Linked DNA regions of Homo sapiens. The protein of the gene in region 2 purifies or fractionates together with the protein of the main gene of each other region. This does not show direct contact. Each region holds a gene or a part of one and is shown on either strand. Other genes may lie near its edges. The genes, in order: HDLBP, NFX1, LARP1 and PABPC4.

Region 1 (7,026 bases), on a different chromosome or scaffold from region 2:
GGCTCCACGAAACACAAGGCAAACAGCCCTATGACAACAGCAATGTGCCCCACCCGACAATGCCACCAGGACCTTTAACTCAATAGAAAAGAATAGGAAAAGATTTGCATTAGGCTAATGCTGGCAGACAGAAATTCCAGACCCTTCATCCCAAGCCTACCCTCCTGAATTACAGCAGCCCCTTCAGGCCCACGTAGGAGGAGAGGCCCTGACTCCTGGCACATCCTCGGGGTCATGACGGCTTTGACCGATGCCCATGAGGTGCCACAAGGGACTCTCGGACCACTACTCACCTTCCCTGCCCTGTCCCTTGGGATCAGGACGGCTTTGGCTAATGCCCACGAGGTGCCACAAGGGACTCTCAGACCGCTGCTCACCTTCCCTGCCCTGTCTCCCCCACCGCCCTTCACCTCCAGAACCTGCTTTCTTGCCACAGCATTTACCATCACTTGCCACAGGATATATCTGCGTTGACTGCTTGTCTCTCCACGGCAACGTGAGAACTATTTTTGTGTGCTGTGGCACCGCAGCACTGAGAGCAGCATCCAGTACGCAGGTGGCACTCGACACTGACTGCACACAAGGTGAGCTAGGCCTGATAACCCCACTCACGCGGGGGGAGACGTTGCAACTGGAGGTCACATTCATCCCCCTGCAGCTGAGACCCTTCCACAGCCCCCGCACCCACCGTGGGCCTGAGAGGCCGGATCCCATGCAGCTGTCCCAGAAAGGGGCTATAGAACCCCGAGCCTTGGTGAAGGGAAGTGGCCTCCCCAAACTCTGTGTCCAGCCGAGAAGCACAGCCCGTGCGCACACGGTAGGAGCAAGAGGGCTACCTCCACTGCCACTGCCGCTTGGGCAACCGTCCATCCCATCCAGGCCACGCGTCTCCCCAGGTGCCTGCTGACTGGGCCTTGGCGGGGGGTGGAGGGGGGCACATGGACACATACCTCCAGAGCTTCCTTGGCAGCCTCACACTTTTCTTTCCGGCCAGAGATGATGATGATGTCACACCTCCTTGGAGAGCCGGGGTCACAATCTTTAGCCTCTCTCCCCTCCCCAGCTTCGTCCCCATTCTCCTGGACAACTGGCTCTGTACTGTGAACTAGAGAGAAAGGGGAAAAGGGACAGCTGACAGCTGCTGGAAGAGACCCCACACCTTGTTCAGAATGCATATGTCTGTGAGGCACCTGCTGGGTGCTGGGTGGTAAAAGGGAGGGAAAACCACTCCTGTCCTTCAGGAGGTCTTGGTCTGGTCAGGGAGAGCAGATAGGACGTCCCCACAGCAGCCTCAAAGAGGGCTCCCAGACCTTGGGGGGGGGGGGGGGGGCGGCAATGAAGGCTTTGCCGGGAGGCCGTGAGCTCTGTGTCTCCCTTCTTCACCTTGAAGATGAAGCTAACAGCAACTAACTACAGCAGAGGCTTCAGTGAGATCAGATGAGTTAGTTCATGGGAGGAACACAGGGCAGACCCACTGCACAAGTGAGGCTTGACTGTGAGGCAGGGCTCATCAGGGAAGGCGGCCAGCACGCAGCCCCACCCAGGAGAGGCAGTGGGAAGGGGGGTGAGAGGTCTAGGGGAGACAGAAAGGGCAAGGCCAAGGTAAACCTGTGCCAGCTCCTTATGCCAGAAAGCGAGAGCCCCAGAAGTGAAGAGGCGTGTGAACAGGACACAGAAGACAGCTGGAGGGGCTCCTACAGGCCACACTGGGACACCGCGTGTGTACCAAAATAGACACCACAACAATAAGTGTCACAAAACAGACACAACAATAATTATCACTAAGACAGAACCCAGGAGGTGTGTGATGTAAATAAATGAGCAGGAGACCAGACAGACGCCTGCCTGAAATCAAGGGTGATCCTAGGATGGGGAAGTAGGTGTTTCTGAAGGAGAAAAACTGGCAAATTTGAATACCGACAACATATTAGATACTACTGTTATATAATGTTAAATCCGATTCCGATAAATGTGCTAGAATTATGTAAGAGAATGTCCTTGTTCTAAGAAAATACCCACCATGAATAAAGGGACATGTCTAAAAATGACATTCAGAAAAAAAACGTGTGTAAAAGGGGAGAAGTTGAGAAAAGAAACTGGTGCCACAGGATGTGTCTTTATACTATTCTGTGAAATTCTATCAAAATCAAAGTTTTAAATAACCACTGAAGTGTAAAACATAGACAGAGTGCAGTATGAGTTTATTAGTTTCCTACTCAAAACACCCTGTATTCTCAGGAAAACAAAGGGGCTTGAATGGCTGTGTGTGACATGCTTCCTGGATGCCCAGAGAGATGACACTATGTGCACTCAGCAGGCTGCAGGGCCACCTGCCGCCCAAACAGCTCAACCAAGACTGATAACACAGAGTGGAGGGCGGGCATCTGATAACACAGAGTGGAGGGCATACCTTTTGTTTCACAAATGCAGAGCAAGTGAGAGAGAGGCAACCGACCCGCATCCCACAGGTCGCCTCCCCACCACCAGGTGCATGAGCAGAGCTGGGGGCAAGCATGGTACGGGGAACTGAATGCTCTCCTAGAACTGCCGGCCACTTGGATGGTGCCCTCTGGCCAGCCAGAGGCTGCAGCTGCCTGCCTCACAGGGGACACCCCACAGTGATGGGAGATGTGGAGGAGGAAGCTCTACGACGGGGCTCATGCGATCCAAACGATGTCATGAGAATCACTGGGACTGAACTCGGGACACCCGAGGATGAGGCTGCACGCTCCTCATCGCCTTGGGACTGGCTACCTTGTGTGTCTCTAGGACCTATGAAGGTCACCTGGTCACTCTGTCAGTAACTGACGTGGTCCATCTTTTAAAGGCCAGGGAGTGACCCTGAACCTCTGGAAGCCCCCAGAATACATAGATGGTTTTCCAGCAGAGACAGGAAAGAGCCTCACCAGTATGTGCGACAGCCCCGCCTCTCACATGGGAGGCGCCACTATTAACAAGCAGAGCAGGGCTAATGGGGGACCCACCTGCGTTCTCCTCTCTGTCTGGGAATTTAATTTGAACACTGAAATCCCGAGTAATCTGCTGGATTCTGGAACCTTTGGGGCCCATGACAGATCGATGGAATTTCTGGGGTATAGCACATTCTAATGTCACCTGAGCTTCCTGGAGGGAGGTACACAAAGAAAAAAGAAAAGAGCAAAGATTAAATTCCTTAGGGCAAGTTTTACAGCACTCTTCACACCACCTTCCTCCCTGTCCTCTACAGCCACTTGGCACAGATGCTCCCCTTCTCCCGAGTCCAGGGCTCCAGGCGCAGGGAGGAGGGAGGTAGCAGGACAGGTCTAAGGGGGTGGGCCTCCTCTGAAATGTGTCCCAGAAGGCCAGGTGCCATCCCTGGAGGGTGGCCAATTCAGCCAAAGGAGTGGGACCTCCTGGGGTAGCCTCTGACTCCATGAGGAGGCATCAGACTTGATTATTAGGGAAAGGGAATCCAAGGCCCTGGCAGGGGAGTGGCCTGGAGGGGACACTCTCTAAAGACTGCTTCTAAAGACCACGTCTTCTCATGACTTCCCATGGATTCACGTGGATGCCCTCAAATCGATTTTCTTTCCTTCACAGAGGGGAGAAGAGAGCTGACCCCTTAGACTGCATTTTCATTTTTCCTGATCCCTTATACAGAATGCATTTTCTTTCTTTCTCTTGCTTTCTTTCCTCTCTCTCTCTCCCCTCTCCTCTTCTCCTTCTCTCTCTCTTTTTTTTTTTAAGTGCTTCTCGCAGGCAGAATTCTCACCAACTATCAGGAAGGAGGCCAGACAGGCTGAGGAAAGAAGAGCGAGCACCAGAAAGCCCCTTCTGAAGCCTTCCAGGGCTGTATGAGGGAGTCACCTCCCTACAGGGTGGAGCGAACACTCATACACGGCTTCGGTGAGTGGCCACTGGGGGGTGAGAACCCCTCCCCGAGCACCCAAGTGCCTACCAGGTCCTCAATGATCTCCTGAATGCGTTTCTTGGCTGCCTCCACACAGTCCTTGGCGCCCTTGAGGGTGACTTTGTCGCTCTGTGTGCCAGAGCGTGGGAAGCTGACCATCACCCCGCCATACTCTTCAGCAATCTCCCGCAAGACCTGGCCTCTGCGGATGACGAAGTGGCGGTGGTGCTTGGGGTCCACCAGCATGGAGTCTTCCACCACATTATCCTGCAGTGTTAAGAAGAGATGGAAGATAAGCCACCCCATCACGGCCCCAGCAGAGTCGGCCGCCGAGGCCCGCTCCCTACCAGGTTTTGGATCAAGGCCTCCAGCTCCTTCTGTGCCTCTCGGACGGCGTCCTCCTTTCCAATGATGGTGATCAGGTCCTGGTCCTTGTCCTCAGCCGCAGGGAAGATGACACGTGCTCCAGTGCTGTCGCGCACCTTGCGAATTTTGCCGCCCCCCTTGCCGATGAGGAATTTGTGGTATTCTGGCTTGGCGCGGATGTCAACAGTGAAACTCTTGGTTTGCTGCAGAAACCAATCCCACTGTGTTAGCCTGACACCACGTGCCTGGACCACAGTGAGGAAGACAAGAGGGTCTGTAGGACAGCAAGCTCGGGCTCCCCTTACATTGTCACCAGTGTCCTGATGTTGCACCAATACCCCCAAAATGGGGCTAGCACACCTCACTGAATAAACAGATGAATACCCAGACTGCACACCTACTTCTCTTCCACAACAACCAGATGCTGGTGGGATGAACACACAGGCTTAGAACCCTGGTCCTGCCACTTACAAGCACTGACCAAACTTCTCCAAGCCATTTTTGATCTGCACAGGGGGAGGTGGGAGCAACGCGCCGGACGATATGTTGGCGGAGTGCACGTCCTGGGGAGCGTGGGGTGTGCCCAGCAGAGCAGGAAGCAAGCTGCCCAAGAGGTGTGCACCATGCTCCCACTCTTCTACCTGCTTCCAGACCAAGCACACACAAATCTGGGCCAGGCTCCCTTTCTTCCCACGAGTGCTACAGATCAGCCTCCACAAAACCAGCCACTCCCCAGGCTCAAGCTCAAGCTCAGAGGGACACAAGCCAACCAAGGCTACAGTTAGAGACCGGTCCTCAGAGGCCTCGTGTAGTGCGACGCCCTTGTGTGGCAGTAAGAAAACGAGGGTCCTGGAAAGGCCCCGGACACTGCTTGTGGACACCAGTGCTTCTGGCAGACCCACGCAGGGGCCCCGAGAAGGGCGCTGCTCCACGGGACTCAGGTCCACACGGGGAGCTCTTGCCTTTCTCCGGACCCAAGATCTGGCCCGCAAGCAAAAATACCAAAGAAAAACATGCTAGCACAAAAATATTAAATAACAACTTTGCTACCTTTTAAGTGCAGGTTTCACCAAATACCACCTAGAGACTCTGCTACTTTTCAAAGACATCCACAAATAGCAGCATTAGTCAAACATTAGGCAATCAATTAGGCAAATGCAATCTAGCAATATGGCCAAAGACAACCTACCAAACCAAGCAGGGATTACCCCAGAAACGCAAGGCTGGTTAAACACAAAGACAAAAACATCAATCTAATAACAACAACAAAAAAGACAAGAAATACAAGGCTCCAGATTAGAGAGAAATGTAACTGTCCACAGACCACGTGATTGTGACATATAAAATAAGGATCCACAAAACAGTGGGCCGGGCGCAGTGGCTCACGCCTGTAATCCCAGCACTTTGGGAGGCCGAGGCGGGCGGATCACGAGGTCAGGAGATCGAGACCATCCTAGCTAACACTGTGAAACCCCATCTCTACTAAAAATACAAAAAATTAGCTGGGTGAGGTGTCGGGCGCCTGTGGTCCCAGCTACTCGGGAGGCTGAGGCAGGAGAATGGCGTGAACCCAGGAGGCGGAGCTTGCAGTGAGGCGAGATTGCGCCACTACACTCCAGCCTGGGCGACAGAGCAAGACTCCGTCTCAAAAAAAAAAAAAAAAAAAAAAAAAAAAAAAAAAAAATCCACAAAACAGTGACTGGCGCTAATATACATGAGCTTTATTTAGCAGCCTCGTGAAGGTCAACATACAAAAACCACAGGCACTTCCATGTGCTAACAACTGGAAATGGAAAAAAAGTGCCATTTACAATAGCACTAAAAGAGTAACAGTAGTTAGATCTGTTAAGTCGAACATAAAAATGTGCTAAAAATTATAAAACACCAATAAAGAATCACAGACCTAAAAAAAATGGAGAAATGCCTGCAAAAGTCAAAACTGCTGAGCTGTCAATCCTCGCCAGTCTCATCTTCAAATTTCACACAATCCCAATCAAAACGTGAAAGTGCTTTTTTCCTACAAATTGACAGGCTGATCAGCAAGGGGTGTAGAACAGCCAAAGTTAAGAGGGCTCACACTACTGATTTCCAGACTTCCCATAAACCTGGTGTCACCAGAAGAGCCCGGAAACATACCCACAGATGGGTTTTGACACAAGGACAACAGCAATTCCATGGGCAATCTTTAGGGGTGATGGAAAATGAATTTTGATGATTGTGGTCACATGACTGCATGTTACTTAAAACTCAACTATACCTGAAGAATGGCCAATTTTACTGTAAATCATATTTAAAAAACAAAAGCACCCCAAAACTAATAAGCCAAAGACCAACTTTTATATATTGCATATGTGAGCGTTTGGACCTGGAAAGGCCCTCCAGTAACAGCAAAAACAAAGACGCATAAACAGTACATTATAGAGCTGTTTTCTGACCCGCCACAAAGGAAGGGCATTCAGGGGTTTCCACAGTGAGAAGCGAGAACACTGTACTGAGGACCAGGCTTCCTGCCAAGAGTCACGCTCCCTCCCCATGCTCACCTTCTCCTCCGCCAGATGCAGGAGCTGCTTCTTGGCCTTCTCCACATCCGAGGAAGGGCCCCTGATAACAACGGTGTCGCTTCCTGAACCTTCCACGGGAAAGTGAATGTGGACCCCGCCGCACTCCTCCATGATGGAGCGGATCAGACGGCCCTTGGTGCCAATGAGGGAGTTGTGCAGCTTGGCAGGGATGGAGACCTCTACCTCGGCTATGTTGGCCTGAAACCAAAC
Region 2 (7,026 bases):
TGTACTCAAAAAAGCATATACACACACTCACACTCAGTTTTGAGAGTATCTGGCTGTATTGAAATCTAGAAAGACTTTGCTGCAATTGTGTTTGAGGAAAAAAATCTGGAAGTGGGTGAAGGTATTCAGGAATAGATCTGGGAGGATTATTCTGATACTACACACTGGTCTGTGTCACTGGACTTTGAGCTCCTGGAGCCAGGGACTGTAACACCACCATGGGGCTTATGGTAGGCACCAAGAATATCTTTGTTAAGTGAATGACTAAAGACTTTGAGGGCAACGGCTAGAGCCATCTCACCACTCATGGGTTGTTGGAACCTGCCCAGACTTGGGCTTCTTATAGCTGACACTACAGCTTCACGAGCCTCTTTCTAACCTAAATCCATGGATCTGATAGATTTAGAGGATCCTGGAAAATAGAAAATGCAAAGCAAGATCCTGTATTGCCCAGTGGATCCTCAGGCTATGTTACAAGGGGCATTTGGCTACTCTGCTGTTTTCCTGGGAATGTTTCCTTAATTGTGGGAATCCCCACCTGAGTGTCTCCTTCCTAAATCCTCTTCCTCAGCAAATTCCTGCCCCTTTTTGGCCTCAGTCTGAATAGCCAGCTGCCTTACCCAGAATCAGATATCCCTTAAAATCTCTGTGTTTGGATTCTTCTCTTGAGTGACTTGCTGATCCTTGGTTGATTAAAGTGAGGAATGGTTTTTTGTGTTTGAGTTAATCTTTTTTGTTATTTTGTTTTTTAAACAGGTTCTCTAATTGAACAACTAACAACAGAAAAATACGAGTGCATGGTGTGCTGTGAATTGGTTCGTGTCACGGCCCCAGTGTGGAGTTGTCAGAGCTGTTACCATGTGTTTCATTTGAACTGCATAAAGAAATGGGCAAGGTCTCCAGCATCTCAAGCAGGTCAATTAATTCTCTCTTCTGAGTAGTTATTCTCCCCTATTTGATACGTTTAAGTATTATTAAGCCCAGCTTTAAAAATACAGTTTAATTTCTCTTAACTACTTTTTCTGCAGGGAGAGTATGTTACCTTGATCATGTGTTTCATATGACCAGAATTAAGTTATAGATCTTAAATAAACCAGCTAAACAACAATATTAAAATATATTTTAAGATACGACAAAATCAGTCACTCTTATTGAAAATGATGGCTTTTACTTATTATTTTTTCTTTGACCTACTGATTTTATTTCCTGTGGATACATAAACAGAAGTGTGATTGCAGGATCATATGGTAATTCTATTTTTAATTTATCTTCTTCTCATTTTTGGCCAGGCATGATGGCTCACGCCTGTAATCCCAGCGCTTTGGGAGGCCAAGGCAGGCGGATCATCTGAAGTCAGAAGTTCAAGATTAGCCTGGCCAACATGGCAAAACTCCATCTCTACTAAAGATATAAAAATTAGCCAGGCGTGGTGGCGGGCACCTGTAATCCCAGCTACTCGGGAGGCTGAGGCACAAGAATTGCTTGAATCCAGGAGGTGGAGATTGCAGTGATCTGAGATTGCACCACTGCCCTCCAGCCTGGGTGACAGAGCAAGACCCTGTCTCAAACAAACAAAAAAACATTTTTTTTTCATTTTTAAATTTTTACTATGCATACGTAATAGTTTACATGTTTATGGGGTACACATGATATTTTGATACAAGCGTACAATGTGTAATGATCAAATCAGGGTAATTGGCATATGGGGATTCCAACACCTCAAATATTTATCATTTCTTTGTGTTAGGAGCATCCCATTTCTACTCTTCTAGTTATTTTGAAATATATAATAAATTGTTGTTAGCCATAGTGCTACTAAACACTAGATCTTATTCCTTCTATCTAACTGTATTTTTTTTTTTTTTTTTTTTTTGAGACAGAGTCTTACTCTGTTACCCAGGCTGGAGTCCAGTGGTGTGATCATGTCTCACTGCAGCCTTGAATTCCTGGACTCAAATGATCCTCCTGCCTCAGACTCCCAAGCAGCTGAGACTACAGGCACATGCCACCACATCCAGCTAATTTTTTTTTTTTTTGAGACGGTCTGCTGTGTTGCCCAGTCTTGTCTTGAACTCCCAGGCTCAAGCAATTCTGCATCAGCCTCCTAAAATGCTGGGATTAGACACATGAGCCACCATGCCTAGCTAGTGGTTTTTTTTTGTTTGTTTTTGTTTTTTTTTTGAGAGGGAGTCTCACTCTGTTGCCCAGGCTGGAGTGCAGTGGCACGATCTCGGCTCACTGCAGCCTCCACCTCCCAGGTTCAAGTGATTCTTCTGCCTCAGCCTCCTGAGTAGCTGGGATTACAGGCGCGCACCACCACGCCCAGCTAATTTTTGCATTTTTAGTAGAGATGATGTTTCATCATGTTAGCCAGGGTGGTCTCAATCTCCTGACCTTGTGATCCACCCACCTCTGCTTCACAAAGCGCTGGGATTATAGGCATGAGCCACCACACCTGGCCTTTTTTTTTTTTTTTTTTTAATGAACCCCATATTTAGTGGAAAATGCTGTATTCAAGCTAAGCAGTCAGTATTGTGAATTTGTTCCTTAAATGTCTGATATGCTTAACATTGAAATTATTACCACTACTTCAATATTGTGTCTTCCTATAGATTTAAATTTTTTTAATTACATGTAGCTTTTGGAAGAAAATTTATTTGGCCTACTCCCATTTTTCCTGACAGATGGCCAGAGTGGTTGGAGGTGCCCTGCCTGTCAGAATGTTTCTGCACATGTTCCTAATACCTACACTTGTTTCTGTGGTAAGTTTGTTTATATACACTGGAGTCTCTTTTACTACATACATTGTACCTCAGTTCAGGAAAGGTGGTCTGCGGGGCATGTTTTAGAAGTTACTAATGAGACTTCAAAGCTCTAGGAGTCTATAAGACTGTAATTATGTGGTCCATCACACAGCTAGAGCCACAGCCTTTGTGCTCCTGGCAAGCTGTTCTGGAGATGGCCAACCAGGCTCATGCTGCTTCTGGGCTGTAGTGCTTGTCTCCTTGGTCTTGAGACCAGGCCTGACCATGTAGCAGAGATAGGTGTGGACGTGGGCTTCATCTCACCCCCAGCAGTTACAGCTTTGATAGTCCAGATTTGAGCAGTATGAGTAAATAATAGTGTTTATTTTAATCCTGGAAATAAGTCATTGGTATTTATAATCAGATTTTTTATAAACCAGCATTATAAACTCTATCCTGGCATCTTCCCTCTTTATGGAATACTTCTTTCTGTTTTTGAATATCTCAGTTCCCCCAAGTATTAGGGGAAAACTTCTTGTAACCCAGATGCTCATTCTTGCTGCTAGCCCATTTCTGCATGTTTTTTTTCCTTTCCTGCCTTTTAATGACTAACTTCCCTCTAGTTGTTGATTTTTCAGATTTTGTTTCTTTACTGTCTGTCTCCCTCCCTGAAGCATTGCATTTTTGCTTCTGTCTTGTTGCCTCACTGAAACCGTATTCAGAAATTACCAATGGGCCGGGCTTAGTGGCTCACGCCTGTAATCCCAGCACTTTGGGAGGCCAAGGTAGGTGGATCACCTGAGATCAGGAGTTCGACACCAGCCTGGCCAACATGGTGAAACCCCGTCTCTACTAAAATAAGTTAGCTGGGCATAGTGTTGCATGTCTGTAATCCCAGCTACTTGGGAGGCTGAGGCAGGAGAATCGCTTGAACCTGGGAGGCAGAGGTTGCAATGATCCAAGATCATGCCATTGCACTCCAGCCTGGGCGACAGAGTGAGACTCCATCTCAAAAAAATAAATAAATAAAATAAAAACAAAGAAATCACCAATGACTCCTTTCCAGCCATATCTAGGGCTGATTTTATAAGCTCATAATCTTTTTGGTAGAGTGATAGCCCTTGACACCTTTGACCATTCCCTTCTTGAAATAAGTAGCTCTTCCTGTTTGTTTCTGCATGCTCTCCTTATTTTTCTAACCAATTTGCTCATATTTCTCCTTTCCCATTACTTAGCTAGCAGCTTTCACAAAGAGTCAAGTCATTTACCATCAACTCTGAATCTTCTAGATGCAATACCTTGGTGAACTCTTTGACTTCCCCTTCTTTTCTTTCAATTCTTAACCACAGTATCATTTAAGATCTGACCCCAAACACCCTCTTACAAAGGAAGCTTTCCTTTGTTATTCTCTGTCTCACTTTGGCCTCTGTTTTATTTGGAATTTTCCGGTCTTACATGTTTTATTGACAGAATCTCAGCCTTAATAGATACTAAATTGGTATTAGATGAGGGAATAAATATTCTTGAATATACTACCAGAAAGGCAGCATGAAACTGGAAGTAAGAGATCAGTGGAAATTTGGGCAAATAGGACAATACCAATACTTAATACCTTATTTTGAAGGATTACATAAAGTACCACAATGGAATTAAAAATCTTGTTAAAGCCTCTACTGGCAAATTAGATGAGAGACTCTAAGGCAGTATAAGAATGTGGAGTGAAGGTCAAGATGATCTGAAAGTGGTAAAATGATGTGAGAATGCACATAAAGGCCTTATTTGCAGATGACTTTGCCCCACACTGTTCTTCCAGGGGACCATTAATTTAACATGTTTTTATTGAGAACTTATTAATGTTCAAGGCACTGTGAAGAAACAGAGGCGAATAAAACGGTTAACTTACCAGAGCTTACAGTCTAAGAGTTAAAACACAATTAGCCTGATACTCTGCTAGAAGTACAAAGTACTATGGGAGATCTTTGGGGTAGTTACGACTTACAGCTGGATGATTAAGAGAAGCCTTCTTGGAGGAGGTAGAATTGAACTGGCATTGTAAACTAGGTAAAATCTTTGTAGGCAGAAAGATATGTTGAAGGGAATAGCATAGGCAGTTCAAAATCAACAGGGTTTAGGGTATATTGGGAGAAGAGTGATTCATCCACTTACAGAGCCCAGGATCTATGATGGTAGGGGAGTGGGAGATGACTGGAAAGGAAGGGCTGACCCTTTGATACCAGTCTCAGATGTTGGGACTTCATTTGGAAGGCTGTGGGAAGCCACTGAGGGCATCAACATGATTCTTTATGGAGATTAGTTTGGTAGCAGTGAGTAGAGTATTTTGGAGCCTAAATAATTTGGGACTTATAATCCAGATGAAGAGTAGTACAAGCCTCTAAGGAGTGTGATAGAAAAATATGGTGTTAGGTTGATTCCTGACAGTAGTAGGAATGGGAGTCACCCAAAGTTTCATGCTTTTGGAAATGGTGATACCAAGGAAAAGGGCAGGTCAAAAGAAGAAGGTCTGGTGGGGACAGTGACTACAGTTTAGAAATGTTGAGCTGGAGGAGTGAGCAGAACATACAGTGAAATATGTCCAACAGGCAGGTAGCAATATTTGAGGAAAGACCAGGACTTAAGGATGAGAATCACAGCTGAGAGGAGTAGTTAAGACCCTAGCGGATGAAAGGGTACAGAGTGAGAAAAGGGTGTAATGCAGAACACTTGCAGGGGAAAGAAAAGCAAAAAACCCCAAAACATCATTTGGAGTCAGGGACAAAAGGTAGAGCTCTTGAGAGATGTTAGAGGAAAACCAGGGCACTGTATTGGAGCAAAAAAGCACAGAGGCAGGGAGGCTTTTGTGATAGTCTGGAGATGAGGTTTTGGCCAGTTAGAGAGGCAGGAACAGGAGAGCGATGAGGTGAGAGCCACTTTGTAGGAAAAATTGACACAACTTGGTGATTAAGTAGAAAGAGGTGTCAGAGATGACTGTAGTTTTTGAGCGTGTGTGACTCTGACAGAGTTGACGTCACTGACAGAAATAGGAAACCCTGAAAAGGGAGGAGTTATAGAGGGAAGATGTGAACTTTGACTGTGGATAAAGCCAGTTTGAGGTGACTGTGAAACCCCAAGCAAGAATGTTCAGCAGACATTTGGACATATGGGTCTGAAACTGAAGATTCAGGGCAAGAGAGAAAATGTGGATTTGGGGATCAATGGCCTTTAGGTGGATTGCACCTCTCAACATGAATAAAATTTCTGAAAGAGATAGTATAGAGAGAAAAGCAGAGGCCATGGACTGGGGATGGCTGCAATTTAGTGTGCAAATTGCCCAAGTGAGGATGAATTCCTCAAGGGCAAGGAGGAATCCTGTGCCTTCGTTTTACTCTTCCCTGTCTCTGCTGAGTCCATGGAAGATGTGCCATGAAGATTTGCAGTGACATTGATTATAAAAGTATAAGGTCTTTTATGCCGACTTTATAGTTCTGGAATAGGTGAGTTCCTGCTACTCGGGATTTATGTCCTTTCCATTTCTTACTGCCTCCCCCCTTTCCCCACGGTGCTCTTCTCTTATTCCCTCTCTCTGATCCTTCCAGCAGCAATTCGCATATCAGTTCAGAAGTCCAGTTATAGACGACTTGTCTTATAGGTATTTATCTTAAATTAAACGTTTCCATTAGTCAAGATAGTATTTTCGTAAGTAAAAGTGACTTTTTATTTATCTTTCCCAGGTAATCCAAGATTTAAGATTTATCATACTCAGTGAAACTTTTTATGAATAGCATTATATTTATCTTTTTATTTTAAGATATGGGATAATACATTTGTTGAAATAATAAAAACCACACTAAAGTTGCATGCTGCCTAGCTATACTTTACTGTTTCATTAAAGTTGAGAATGTGGTTGAAGTTTGTACCATTGACTCTCTGATCTGATATGTTCTAGGCAAGGTAAAGAATCCTGAGTGGAGCAGAAATGAAATTCCACATAGCTGTGGTGAGGTTTGTAGAAAGAAACAGCCTGGCCAGGACTGCCCACATTCCTGTAACCTGTAAGTTGGAATGCTAATTCCGTTGGGATTGCTGGTGGACATGCTTTGCTGGTGGCTCTAAGTAAACATACCTGGTTAGCATGTAATGGTTTGGGATGAAGGGTGATATGGGACCTCAGTAAATGGTCTCAAATCACCCTGTGCCAGGCACTCTACATCAGTTAACTTGTTGAATCCTTACCACAGCCCAGTAATAGATATTTACCATCTCTGCTTTACAGATGAGGCTCAGA
Region 3 (7,026 bases), on a different chromosome or scaffold from region 2:
GGGTTAAACATGGTTACCCCATGACCCAGCAATACTACTCTTCTAACCAAAATAAAGGAGAAACTACGTCTACAGGAAACCTGTATGTGAATATGCCCAGTAGCATCATTCACAATAGACAAAAAGTAGAAACAACCCAAATGCCAATCAACTGATGAATGGATACACAAAATGTGATACATCCATACGATGGAATATGATTTGGCAATAAAAAGAATAAAGTACTGATGCATGCTATGACATGAACCTTGCTGTGTATTTGTTAGTATACCAAATATACTAAGGGGAAGAGGCCAGTAACAAAGGACCACATACAGTATAATTTATGTGAAATGTCCAGAATAGGCAAAATCCTTAGAGGCAGAAAGTAGGTTAGTAGTTTCATAGGGCTGGGAGGATTCTGGGGGTGGGGAGTAGTTTGCATGTATAATGAGTATGACTGGTAAGGGGCATAGCATTTTGGGGGTAATGAAAATGTTCTAAAATTGATTCTGGTGATGGGCACACAACTATATGAGTACACTTAGAGCTATTACATTGTATTCTTTAGGTATGTTCCATCATATGTAGATTATATCCCAATAAAGCTGTTATTACACATAGAGTAAGAAAGAGAGAAGTGAAGTGGATGAATCAAGAATTTAGCAACCACGTTTTGTTGAATGAAAGAGGATGAATGAGTTAATAACTACAGGTGACTAGATTGGTTTTGCGCGTCTTTACAGCCAACCTATCAGAATACTAAAAGAGCAGGGACAGACAAGAGCATCTAGACAGGCTCGTTCCTTACACTATCATCTAGAGAGGGGATCAGCAAACTACTTTTGTAAAGGGACAGAGAACAAATATTTCAGGCTTTACAGAAGACATATAGTCTCTGTCACAAATCTTTTTTTCTTACAACCCCTTAAAAATGTAAAAACTGTCCTTAGCTCCAAAGCCATACGAAAACAGAATACTGGCTGGATTTGACTCACAGGCCAGTTTGGCAACCTTTGTTCTAGAGAGCATATGTCACCTCTTACATACCCTTTTGTGATGGACAGTGGACTAGACCTGACAATGGCTGAGTCAGTAATCTTGCCAGAGATATGGAAATACTTAATTGACAGCTTTAATAATCAATAGAGGAAGATCAAAGAACACGAACGTTGTGAGTGCCATATCCCCCTAGCTTCCTACAGTTTAAAACTACCTGGCCCGAGTCTAACTTCAGTCTTTCTTGCTATAATGTCATGTCTTTTTTTTGCTCTGAAGTCAGAGAAAAGAGTCACCTATCCCCGTATCCCCCAACTCTTATACTCTGGGTCTAAATAACGGGCCCAGAGGCTCATCTCCTGCCCCCCACACTTCTTACCATTAAGGCAGCGCCTACGATACTTATGGTAGACGTGTTGTGTGAAGCCATTTTCCTTGAGCAGTTCATGGGAAGGATGCTGGAACTTGGGCAATGACTGAGGGGTACAGCCATAGCTGCCAACTGTAGGCGTCCCTTCTGAGGGGCTGGAGCTACAGAAACCACAAAAAATACTGTCACCAGGTTCCCCACAGCAGCCCCACCATGTCAGGAGGGGTCCCTCTGATCCGTTCTGTCAGCCAAGATCCATCCTCTCACAGGGTATCAAACAAGGAGGCCCAGTTACGGACCTTTAACTTATATCCATGGGTCTGATTAACTCTGCATCAACTCTCAGAGAGTTTTACAGAGGATACTGAGGCTTACAGAGATTAGGAGACTCATCCAGGGTCATAAGACTATTTAATGGCAGAAACGTGTCCAATGATAAAACTTGAGCTTTTAACCATTTATTAACTTTAAGCATTTAACCTTTTAATGAGCCATCATGGGTCAATCCATCTACAGTGAACCCTTGAACAACATGGGTTTGAAATGCATGGATCCACGCGTGGGTCCACTTATACGCAGATTTCTTCCACCTTTGCCACTCTTGAGACAGCAAGACCAACCCCTCCTTCTCAGCCTGCTCAATGTGAAGACCATGAGGATGAGGACCTTTATGATGATTCCCCTTTGCCACTCGAGAGAGCAAGACCAACCCCTCCTTCTCAGCCTGCTAAACATGAAGACCACGACGATGAAGACCTTTATGATGATTCTACTTCCACTTACTGAACAGTAAATATTTTCTCTTATGATTTTAACTTTTATTTTAGGTTCAGAGGTATGTGTACAGGTTTGTTAAGTAGGTAAACTGTACCTCACTCTCCTCCCTCTCCCCACCAAGTAGGCCCCAGTGTTTGTTGTTCCCTTCTTTGTGATTTTCTTAGTAATATTTTTTATTTAGCTTATTGTAAGAATACAGTATGTAATACATATAATATGCAAAACATGTGCTAATTGACTATATGTTATTGGTAAGGCTTCTGGTTAACAGTAGGCTTTTGGAGAGTCAAAAGTTATACACGGATTTTCAACTGTGTGCAGCTGGGCACCCCACGCCCTTCGTTGTTCAAAGATCAATTGTATATTTTCTTCAAAAGCATGCCTATTTGCAGTCTGTGCCATCTCTGCAGGGAGTAGAGAGCATTGGTCATAGGTAGGTGGCTCTCAAAGCTTGCTTTGGGAAACAGGAAACACACACTGGGGCCATCTTACTGAAATAAATAAAAAAGAGTGTGGGCCCTACCCCAAGAAGCAGGGTCAGCAGATACAGGTTGGGGCCAATAAATATGTATTTTTTTAATTTTTAAAACTTTTCAAGTAGCCTCCCAAGACATAGTAGGCTCAGAGAGACTGCCAGAAATCTGTTTATTCAACTACCTGGCTATTCTTCCTCAGACAGAAAGTAGATAGCCAGGCTTGGAAACCAATTCAGAGATTTTCTCTCTGCATGTATGAAAATCTGGTCTCACGTGACTGCCACACCACTTCTTTAGGAAAAAAGCCTACCCGTCATTCCCAGGTCCTGGGCTGAGCTTTCCACACCACTGGTTTTTTGAAAACCTCTTAGATGAGGGTCCCTTTAATTTTCAGACCAATCTTCTTGGTCCAGTCAATTTCATGGCTCGCCCACCCATCCCATAGGCAGCCTGATCACTCTTCCCCCACTGCCCCAGGTACCTGATGGAAGCAGTACGGGGCCTGTGCTCACGGGAATCCATCACCCAGCCCACATGGCTCTCCAAGGGTGGGTTTGAACTGTGTCTTGTCTTTCTTTTTCGAGGCATCTGCAAAGGTTAGCCCAGGGTTTGTTACTGTTTGTACTCCTACAACTCTGAGGAGCATCAAGCACTTGTAGGACTAAGATGGGCATGATCTCTCACATTTTACAACAGCATTTTCATATTCATTCTCGTATAAAGTTCACAGTGGTGAGCTAGGAACTGGTATGCCTATTTCAAACAGGTGAAGAAATCAAGGTTTGGGAATGCAGTGATTTGCCCAAGGACTCATACCTGGTCAATCCTCCTTAGGCCTTTCAACATGGGGTTACCACTCCCACACCCAGTATATTTTGCAGATGTGGCTACCTAATCCTAGGTAAGCCCACCAGCCTCAGAACACAGAGCAGGTGAAGGATTTAGCACTTCCTTAGCTCAGACAAGGCAAGGGAGAGAAGCAAAGCACTGGAATGCAATGAAGTAGACCCAAGACTCTGAGCAGCCCGACAGGAATGCCTCACCTTGGCATCCAGTGTCCGTCCTTCTTTCACCACTGGGTAAAACCGTGATGTCTGGCTTGAGTCTTTGAGCTGTGGTGTCCGGGGAGTGCGAGGGGTCCTGGTGTTGCGGTAGTTTGGTGACTCTGGGACAGTGGTTGGTAGAGAGCGGGCGATGGTGGAGGGCTCAGGAGCACCAAACAACTTGTTGGCCAGGGCATCCGTAGGAACTGCAGAGGCAGAGAGAGGAGTCAGGAAGCAGGGAAAGGCCTGTGGCATCCACCCCAGGATAGCCCCCAGTCCAAGGGCCCTAGATCCTCTCACCCATGTCAGGATCTCAGGTGTCTGCTTCTCACCTTGCTGGAACCGAGGTGGCCCAGGAGGAACTTCCTGGTTGGGATCCACAGGGGGCTCAGGGGTCAGTGTGTCAAACTGCTCCCGGCTGATCATATTGACCTTTTTGAAGTTCTCGACTTCTTGCTGCAGAGGTCATGAGATGAGTGGGGAAAGATGTAAGTAAGCAGGCTGCTCTAGCCTGTTTAAGGAATCAAGACTGGCAGGAAGTTGGAGAGGGCAGCTCCCACGTCGACATACGTGGAATTCTGGTCCCCAGGCTCTCAGCTGCCCAGTCACCATTCCTCACCCCAGTTACCTTGGCACAAGTGTGCTAGCCCAGAAGAAGACAGTGCTTGCCCTGCCCTCCCTGTAGTAAGACTGAGATCAGGCTGACAGTAGCTCCTCAGGAACTCACTACACACTCCCCCCTGAAAGCTCCAGTGTTTCCCCATCTCTCTTTCTGCTACTGCCTTATCACACAGTGGCTGGGCAACTCTCCTTCCTCCTTACTTCCAGGAAACACACTGCTACTTATTACAAAGGCTCACCCTAGGACAACCTACCACCAAACATACCCACTCTAAAATCCCACAACAGAGATGTTTTGACTATTTCCAGGCAGCAGCAATTTTTCAAAAGACTTATCTTTTCTCCATTTTCCATACTCAACACAAGCTTCTTAAAAGGCTTCTAAATTTTTAGATGCCTAAATATTTAAGACTAGAAATAACAATCTAACCCTTTTTCTGTTCCCCACAAAAGTGTCTAGCCAACTGTCAGAATATTAACTATGGATCCGCAGATAGGATAATAATCACCACCGCCTCACCTGAAGAGTTTGCAGTGTTTACACATCACCCCTCACTCCTAATGCCCAAGCTAGATGTCAGTCATCATCCCCTTCCCATATATAAAAATCCTGAGACTCTGAATTATAAGGACCTGCCTAAAATTGCACAGCTAATCAGGCTTCCTCTTCTCCGTACAATACAGGCACACCAGGCTCCACACTCACTGCTATGTCCAAGCCTCACCTTGATCTGGGAATACTCAGGTTCAAACTTTTCAGCCCACAGGTCCTGCTCATAGTAGAAGAGGCCATCATTAATGACCTTGGCCAGTTCGGCGCTCATCTTGGCACGCGAGGTGTGGTTGCCTGTGCGGTCCCCCCCTGGGTGCCGGCGCATGTAATGTGGTGTCTGGGTGACAATGAGGATCTTGTTGACATCCCTGTCATCAATCTCATAGTCAGATTCCTCATCAGACCAGGCAGTGAAGGTGTTCTTCCGCCCATCCATCTGCTCCATCTCCTCGTCAAACAGAAAATCCAGTTCCTCTTGCTCATCCTGATCCTTGGACATCAGCTGCTGGGAAGGCAGCTGCTGAGGCAGAGAGGTCAGGTGGGAAAATCTGGACTCCTCTGACTTCTAAAATAGGACAGACGAAGGGGAAAAGGAATCACCAGAGATCCTTGGCCCAGATTCTGTAGCTATACCATGAGAGGGAAGCTCCAGCCTCTCAACATAAGACTGTTCAACTATGACCCTGGTAACACCAGCAGGTCACAAGCGTCATCCTGGGAGTCAGCTTTATGACTATGAGAAAGGATGTTTCATAGAAGTCCAGGTTCCTCCACTCACAGCTCATATCACAGTCATGCACAAACAACTGATGATGACTTCTCTATAGGCAGGAACTGTGCTCTCATTTACCTTTATATCCTACATAGCACCTAGCTTAGGAGTGGACACACAGAAGTTCAGCAGGTTGATTCATCCACTTATCCATCTATTCAACATCTCCCAATAAACTGGAAGCTCCATGATCCACAGCTGCCTTGCTTTCCATTATATACTCAGTACCTAGACGGGGATCTGGTAATACCAGATGTTCAATTATATAATAAATGAGGGAGTACCCATTAGTCCTAAGCTCTGTATGAAAAACCTAAAAGCAGAATAAGACAAGGTCCCTGTTACTTAGGGAGCTCAATGGGAGAAAGTCAACCAAACAGCCAACTGCATTGTGGTATGGTAAAGGCTATAAGCAGGTTTGTGGATGCACACAGTTAAAGGAGCTTAGTCAACTGTGACTAAGAATGGTTACGGAAGGCCTCCTTCAAGAAGTGACTACCACAGGATGAACATAAGTAAGCCAGATGAAGATAGGGACAGACTAGGCAGAAAGAATACCATTGTTCCAAAGGCAAGAGAAAACACGGTGCCTTCAGCAAAGAAAAACTATTTGTTTTGATAGACTGAATATGAGACGCTGAGAGAGAAGCATTTGTCTAAACCCACAGTATTTATTCAAAAGTAGATTCCCTGCTGTGCCAAGAGCACATAAACTCTAAACCTATCTTTTTTTAAGGTTTAAGATAGACCAGGTCAGAGTAGGGGCTCTAATTCTGGAATGGGAGCTAAGTCTGACCCCTGTTTCAAACAAAACTTTGTAGGCCTGGACTTTGTAAAACCCTCATCTACTTACTACCTTTCTCCTCATGTCTCTGGCTGGATCTCCAACACTTTTTGAGGGCTGAAGCCACAACTGTGGGGAATTCTGTGTATGAACAGGCAGGCAAGAGAAAGGAGATGAGAGGTAATCACTGTGGGAAAATAGATAAGGGAGTATAGAATTCCATAGACCCAAAGTTCAAGGTCAATTCTGCAGTCTCCTCACAAGCCCCAGGCCAGAGGTCTCCAAAGTGGGTGACAGTGAGCAGGTATGTGGAGAAAAATTCAGCACTTAAAAAGGAAGTAGTAATTTTAGTTAGAGATTGCAATACTTCTTTAACAGTGAACTTCATCTGTTTATATATATAAACTATTTCTAGAATATTCTAATGTCTCCTTCCTTTCATCTGCAGATGGAGAAACTGAAGCCTTGAGGTATGAACAGGCTTCCCAAGGTCACCTTGCCATTAGTGCAGCAGACTTGTGTAGACTAACTCCATATTTGGGCCATGCATCTGCTCCCTCTCCCTTCCTTCTTCTGAGGACCTAAGGGGCTTACATACATGATAGTGGGGACATACTCAGGGAAAAGACACCAAAAACGCAGCCCCAGAAAT
Region 4 (6,501 bases), on a different chromosome or scaffold from region 2:
AGCACTGAAGACTTCAGCACCATTTGCTATAGTCACAGACCTCCCATTTTCCCTGCTAGGGGAAAACTTGGTTGCAGAATCTGGGGAACTGGATCCGCTGACTCGAATGCAGCATAAACTGACTGCAGGAAATAAGAGGGGACAGGACACACCCCAACCGAGTTCAGGAAGGGAAGGACGGGGCTCAACTAACCAACTGGGATCTGCAGATCTCACCGTATGTCCTTGGGGTGTGCGCCAACCCCACTCTGCCCCAGATTTTCCTGGGCCAGACCCATGGTCTGCTCTGACCACATCAGATCTCTGTTCCCTCTAAGTTAAATGGGGCTAATGTAACAATCATACTGTAACAGAACAGTGTGGGACAGGATCATATTTAACAGTTCTGTGTATCTTGCTAATCTTTGTCAGCTTCAAGTCAAGAAAGAATAAACTATCACTGGAACCAATTCACATCCTAAAGTTACTTCCAGTGAAAACCGGAATTCATAGAGTAAAACTGTGGTCAGAGACAGAGGCAGTTTTATGGAGATTTTTTTTCTTTATTGGGAAACGTAAGACTTGGGTACATCAAATAAAACCAATTTCTGGGGGAAAAAATCAAAACCCACAATAAAAAAAAAGTTAACACTGTCTGGGCCACAGCAGAACCCAAAGAACATATTCGTATAATTGAAAAATTCTAGGTGCTTCATAATTGACCTTTTGATACAAAATGACCTATTAAATTTGCAATTTGTAATCCTTGGTGTTGAGGTCCATAGGACAAGCTAGGAAGTCTTCAAACCTTGAGTTGAATTCCATAAGGGGTTATTTGGCTTTTGAATCCTGTAAAGAAAAGCACCAACACAAATAAATGCATAATCAAATAATTTAGATTCATTAACATATAGTGGATAAAGGAAGGTATTCTAGAAGAGAGTTTCTCAACCTCAGTGCTATTGACACTTTGGACATTCTGTTGGGTCTGTCCTCCTGTGTACTGTACAACATTTAGCAGCATCTCTGGTCTTTACCACTAGATGACAAGGCTCCTGAGGCCCTTGACAAGAGGGTCATGACTATGCCAAGTCAACCCTCCCAACACACCAGCTCTGGTCCTTACCATGTGCTTTTTCCTTAGCTTATTTTACTGTCTCTTCTTTCCCTATCTGGAGACACCTACAACCATCAACCAGTACTAGTTTTATTATTCACTCAAGCTCCTGCAGACAAAGTCCACAGTCCTCATGATAAGAAGTCACCTGCAACACACTCCGTGTAACTAACTGTACTTATTGTATTCCCAGAGCTAAGCAGTGAGCATATATACAACCTCAGGTCAAACCACAAAGACAATGCTCATAGGAACAATGCTCATAGGAACAAAAATGAAAATAGCCACACATACGGTTTTTCCTTGTCTAAGAGGTAGCAGCAGCAACAGCGCCCACCTTCTGGGCAGCTTCTTTCTTGGCATGATGAGCCTGTAGAACTGCTACAGCTTCATCCACCTGCGAGAAATCTTCAGGTGGTCAGTGAATCTAGGAGAGCTACTCCACCCCTCCCCAGTGCCCAGACCTAGTGGTGGACCAAAGCCAACTGTACAGATGATCCCTAGGCTTCTGGTGCTAACTACTTTCCCAAATACCCACTGCAGCCTCCAGTCACAGTCAAGGCATGACGAGAGGGGTCCTGGGGGCAGCAGATCCCACTTTCTGCTGCACCTGGGCATCCAAGTTTGCCCCCAGTCTTCCCAAGCTGAGAACTGAAGCTGCAGGGTCTGAGCCCCAGCTCACCTTGGAGCGGAGAGACTCGGGGGACTCTAACATGTGCAGCAGCTCAGAGTTGTCTATCTCCAGCAGCATTCCCGTGATCTTCCCAGCCAGATTTGAATGCATTGTTTGGATGAGTGGGAACAAGCGTTCTCCTATGGGGAGGATAGTTAATAAAAAAACAAATCAAATCCCAGTAAACAATGGACACTGGTGTCCTAGCTGGCATCAGGCTCTGGGACCCTCTTCTTCTGCAAGCAAGTGGGTCACTCACCCAGCATCTGCTTCTGTTCCTGGGGGGGTGCTGCAGCCAGCATGGAGGCAGTCAGTGGCTCCTGCCCCTGCACATGGACCGCAGGCTGGGGTGCCTGGGAACCAGGAAAGGCAGTGGGTTAGCACTGAGGAAAGGACAACACCTGATGGTGGTTGAGTGCCTGTTCAATATCTGAACATCTGACTATGTGAAAGAGGAGAGGAGGTGGCTGTCCTTGCTCTAAAGGAACTAATTTCAGTCCTTGAAGGATTGAGGGGTGTGTTGAGGAACAGAGTGGTATGGACATAAACACAACCAATTACAATGAAAATGGCATGCTATCAGAAAGCGAAGTGAAACGTAAATAATAAAACAAACCTATAGTGCTAGGCAAGCATTTTCTGACATTTCCTTAATACACCCAAAGTTACTCAAGAATGAAAAGCCTTGATATAAATAAGGGTAAACACTTGTATATAACCTTTTCCTGAAAATTAGTTTTCCTTTAGGGTAAATCTCAGTGCAGATTGGATCAAAGGGAGTAAATATCAACACATTTATAATTACATTCCACATCACCTTAATTCTACCAAATGTTTTTGTATCAAATGCTTAAAAACGGTCAACATGCAACGTCAATGCTAGTCAAAGCCTTGCAAAGAAAAGGTATTTTACATAGCATCAAGTTCTAGGAAATCCCCAACTTAGAGAGTATGAGACAGGACAGTTAAAGAGTAATCTCCTAAGCAGCTTATGGGCCTGAAGGCTTAGGGTGACACCTCCACAGCAAATTGCTATTAGGCTCTGAAACAAACTAGTTGCATCTAGAGCACAGGTCTAGAGACAGCAAGTTACAGCTTAGAAAATCTAAGCTCTAGGTTCAACCCCTTCACCTCCTACACACACTTTACATCTTTGAAGCTGAACATCCGATCTGTAAGTTGAAGTTATTTCCTGCATTAATGTACCAATCATCTTGCAGAGCAGCCAAGGATCCAATAGGTCATTGGATGCGGAAGTGACCTGGAGGCTCAAACAGCTGAATGAGCACATTATTTCGTACAAACAGAAGAGGAAGCACTGGCTGCCCGCTCTGAGGCATTTCTGAGTGAACTGGCATCAGGCAGAGCACTTTTAAGCCCCTTCTTTCCCACTAGTGAGCCCCTGAAGGGCAGGGACAGTGAATCAGAACATAGCGTCATAACACAGAGCAGGCATTTAATACCTGTTGAAGGAATCAAAAGCACAGCTTCTTTTACATCAAGTGGAAATGGGGGAAATCCTTTTAAGCATTCTGTCTGGTGAACCTCACCTGCAGAGGCTGTATGGCAGGATGAGGGCTGCGGACACTGGAGGCGTATTTGTAGGGGGCAACAGCCCGGGGAGCAGCAGCAGCAACAGCAGCGCGTGGCGCTAAGTTCTGCACAGCTGTGGGAACGCCTTAGGGAAAGAACAAATACAATTAAAGCCCATCAGTCTGGGCAAAGACCCGTCAAATCCCATCTTTCCCCCTTCTGTGTGCATCCAATACCACCTCCAGACTGGCAGCTGTCAGTCAGCCCTTGCTGGGCGGCACCAGCCCCACCAAAGTCCATAGCCAAGCGGTCCGGGCACTCAGACCCTACAACAGACCAGCAAATGCACATCAGTGTTGGCGGCAGATGTCCAACTGGCCACGTCCCACGGAAGGAGAAATTTCAAAGCACGTTTACGCAACACATTGCACAGGGGGCCACTACTACTTTCGAGGATGAGCCAAAGGATAACATACAACTCTTTCCACATCTTGGAATACAAGACATATTCTGTATACACTGTTTCCTTGTATTCCTCACCCCACCCAAAAGAACAAGCTGCCTCTGTGGTCATCCAGCTAGCAAACTTCTACAACTAACCTTTTTCACATAGGTCACCGATGAGCAAAGAATGTTAAAAGCAACTGACACACCTAGAACTCATACTGTTTCTCTGCTCCTGAAGTGGCCACCTAAGCACACAGCTAAGATTACAGAACCAGGACTCGATAAATTCGAGCCCAACAAACTGACCAACCCAGGACAGAGCCTAGTCATCCTGACTCCCTCCTCCCCAGGCCACACTTCTAAAGGCCAGTTTGCTCACCGACTCTCTGAGTGGTAGTAGGGAGGCCACGAGAGGCCGGAGCATTACCAGTTGGAGCCAGATGGCGAAGAGTTGGACGAGGCCCAGACTGGCGTATAGCACTTGGCATTCCTTGGAAGCCTGGTGAAGAGAAAAATTGCACATCATTGAGAAGTGATGTGGACCAGAACCTAGGCTGTGCCTCAGAGTGGGGAAGAAGGAAAGGCAGGGGAGACCAGGACAGGTATATCCTGGGCTGTCAATTACTGTTCCCCACCACCTACCTTGAGGTCTCCCACCTTGCTGCCAGCGTGGATTAGGCCTCATCTGTGCTAACTGGTTAGGTGTATAATATGGAGGCCTTCCCTGAGCCTGTAAGACAGAAGAATACCCAAACACCCCCTTAAGGACTGAACCCATCCTAGAGAAGTATCTCATCTCATCTCACTAACCAGGACCTAAGCTAATTATTTAAATGTTCTTTCTATTCAAGAGCTGAGGGGTCAGCTAATGGGGACTGTTTTATGCTACCACTGCCACTGTGGGTGTGTGTTTGTGACCATGGGTAAGTCCTTCATTTTTACTTGAAGGGTCCTTATTGTGACATTCTAGAACTCTAATAACGAAAAATCCCTCTCCCCAACCACTGCAGAATACTGCCAGCCGGCAGGTTCCCAAGAGCTGTGACCAAACAGCACACCCACCTGTGGGACTGCTGGCACAAAGTAGCCACCCGCTGCAGGCTGGAACTGATTTAAGATGGCATTGGCAGGAAGTGCTCTCATTCCAGCCACTCGTTGCATATACTGGTTGGTCAGGTGAGCCTTTCTCTCTTCCTTCCTCTGGGCCAGGGCAACATATAGTGGCTTGGAGCCCACAATGCGTCCATTCATCTCAGTGACTGCTTTGGTTGCTTCTTCAGGAGATGAGAAGCAGACGAAGCCAAACCCTTTGCTTCTTCCATCCTCCAGCATTACCTACAAAATGAGACCAGCTACTTAAGAAATAAGGTGTCCCTGGCTGGGTGTGATGGCTTGTGCCTGTAATCCCAGCACTTTGGAAGGCTGAGGTGGGAGGGCTGCTTGAGCTCAGGAGGTTGAGACCAGCTTGAGCAATGTAGTGAGACCTCATCTCAAAAAAACAAAGGGCCAGGCGCAGTGGCTCATGCCTGTAATCCCAGCACTTTGGGAGGCCGAGGTGGGTGGATCACGAGGTCAGGAATTCAAGACCATCCTGACCAACATGGTGCAACCCCGTCTCTACTAAAAATACAAAAATCAGCTGGGCGTGGTGGCACACACCTGTAATCCTAGCTACTCAGGAGGCTGAGGCAGGAGAACCGCTTCAACCCGGGAGACAGAGATTGCAGTGAGCCGAGATCGCGCCACTGCACTCCAGCCTGGGCGACAGAGCGAGACTCCATCTCCAAAACAAAACAAAACAAAACAAAACAAAACAAAACAAAAACACCAACCAACCAAACCAACAAAAAAAACAAAACAAACCTACAAATAGGAAAAAAAAGGATGTCCCTGGGTGGGGAGGGAACTATTCAGAAGAACCAGAAAGCCTGGGTTCTGCTGCAGTCACTGAGTCTAGGTCAGGGTTCTGGCACAGGATTTACCCCAGACCAACTAAGTCACAACCTCTAAGGTATCTAGGTGTTTTCTTTGAGTCCCCAGGTGATGCTAAAGTTCTGAAACACTATGATATGGCTAATAATAAAACCAGGAACTCAAAGATGTTTCCTGATACCTGGTGGATAGCTACTCCGGGTAACCACAAAACATCTTGAGAGTAGTACTGAGCAATTTATTTTCATATCTCATATGCTTCAAGACCTCGGTGGACAAACTCTAACAAGCTCTTACCAACGTCAGGATAACACTTTTGGAATACCACGTGTGGACAGGAGTCCTAAAATGTTCAGGTAACCAATGACTGCCACCATTAATTCAATGAGATGACCAGCTCAGAGATAGGCAGCCTAGATTCTAGTCTCACTTGCCTTCCTGAGGCTCAATTTCCAAGAAATACTCCAAACAGCTACAAAACCACAGGTCTACTGGTTCAGGCAGTCTTTTCCCACATTAAGTTCATCATTCACAAATGGCATTCTTCCTAATAGACAAGGTTATTCACTGTCTTCTCTGGTGTGACTGTCATTGTTTTATGTCTTAGTTAATGGCCCAGAGAGCCTCCTGAAGTGGAGGATAGGGAAGTAAAGAAGTGCATCACTCCATAACTCTCTACCAATGAGATGGGCCAGTAAGGTATGTGAATAAAAATGCCACACCATCATAATGAAAATGGGGACAATTCAAGGTATGGCTCTTCTGCTCTCTTAACAAATGCCAACTTGACTACTAGGCAGATAAGCAAGGATAGAAGATC

The links.
Region 1: the proteins of NFX1 (region 2) and HDLBP purify together in Homo sapiens (affinity purification with mass spectrometry; 2 studies listed by BioGRID). This does not show direct contact.
Region 3: the proteins of NFX1 (region 2) and LARP1 purify together in Homo sapiens (affinity purification with mass spectrometry, with the first as the bait; 3 studies listed by BioGRID). This does not show direct contact.
Region 4: the proteins of NFX1 (region 2) and PABPC4 purify together in Homo sapiens (affinity purification with mass spectrometry, with the first as the bait; 2 studies listed by BioGRID). This does not show direct contact.

What each region holds. Positions count from the first base shown.
Region 1 is NC_000002.12:241,235,665-241,242,690, forward strand, and holds part of HDLBP (vigilin), read right to left. Parts: intron 7,015-7,026; coding exon 6,796-7,014; intron 4,645-6,795; exon of another isoform or gene 4,459-4,644; coding exon 4,237-4,458; exon of another isoform or gene 4,157-4,236; coding exon 3,938-4,156; exon of another isoform or gene 3,838-3,937; coding exon of another isoform or gene 3,727-3,837; intron 3,124-3,726; coding exon 2,985-3,123; intron 1,106-2,984; coding exon 951-1,105; intron 1-950. UniProt on the Homo sapiens protein: Appears to play a role in cell sterol metabolism. It may function to protect cells from over-accumulation of cholesterol.
Region 2 is NC_000009.12:33,300,507-33,307,532, forward strand, and holds part of NFX1 (transcriptional repressor NF-X1), read left to right. Parts: intron 1-756; coding exon 757-915; intron 916-2,684; coding exon 2,685-2,762; intron 2,763-6,687; coding exon 6,688-6,793; intron 6,794-7,026. UniProt on the Homo sapiens protein: Binds to the X-box motif of MHC class II genes and represses their expression. May play an important role in regulating the duration of an inflammatory response by limiting the period in which MHC class II molecules are induced by interferon-gamma.
Region 3 is NC_000005.10:154,800,364-154,807,389, reverse strand, and holds part of LARP1 (la-related protein 1), read right to left. Parts: intron 5,384-7,026; coding exon 4,991-5,383; intron 4,101-4,990; coding exon 3,977-4,100; intron 3,851-3,976; coding exon 3,645-3,850; intron 3,190-3,644; coding exon 3,083-3,189; intron 1,510-3,082; coding exon 1,358-1,509; intron 1-1,357. UniProt on the Homo sapiens protein: RNA-binding protein that regulates the translation of specific target mRNA species downstream of the mTORC1 complex, in function of growth signals and nutrient availability.
Region 4 is NC_000001.11:39,560,295-39,566,795, forward strand, and holds the end of PABPC4 (polyadenylate-binding protein 4), read right to left. Parts: intron 5,085-6,501; coding exon 4,812-5,084; exon of another isoform or gene 4,776-4,811; intron 4,480-4,775; coding exon 4,392-4,479; intron 4,249-4,391; coding exon 4,129-4,248; intron 3,629-4,128; coding exon 3,542-3,628; intron 3,448-3,541; coding exon 3,320-3,447; intron 2,123-3,319; coding exon 2,029-2,122; intron 1,910-2,028; coding exon 1,779-1,909; intron 1,494-1,778; coding exon 1,404-1,493; 3' UTR 1,391-1,403; intron 829-1,390; 3' UTR 522-828; downstream 1-521.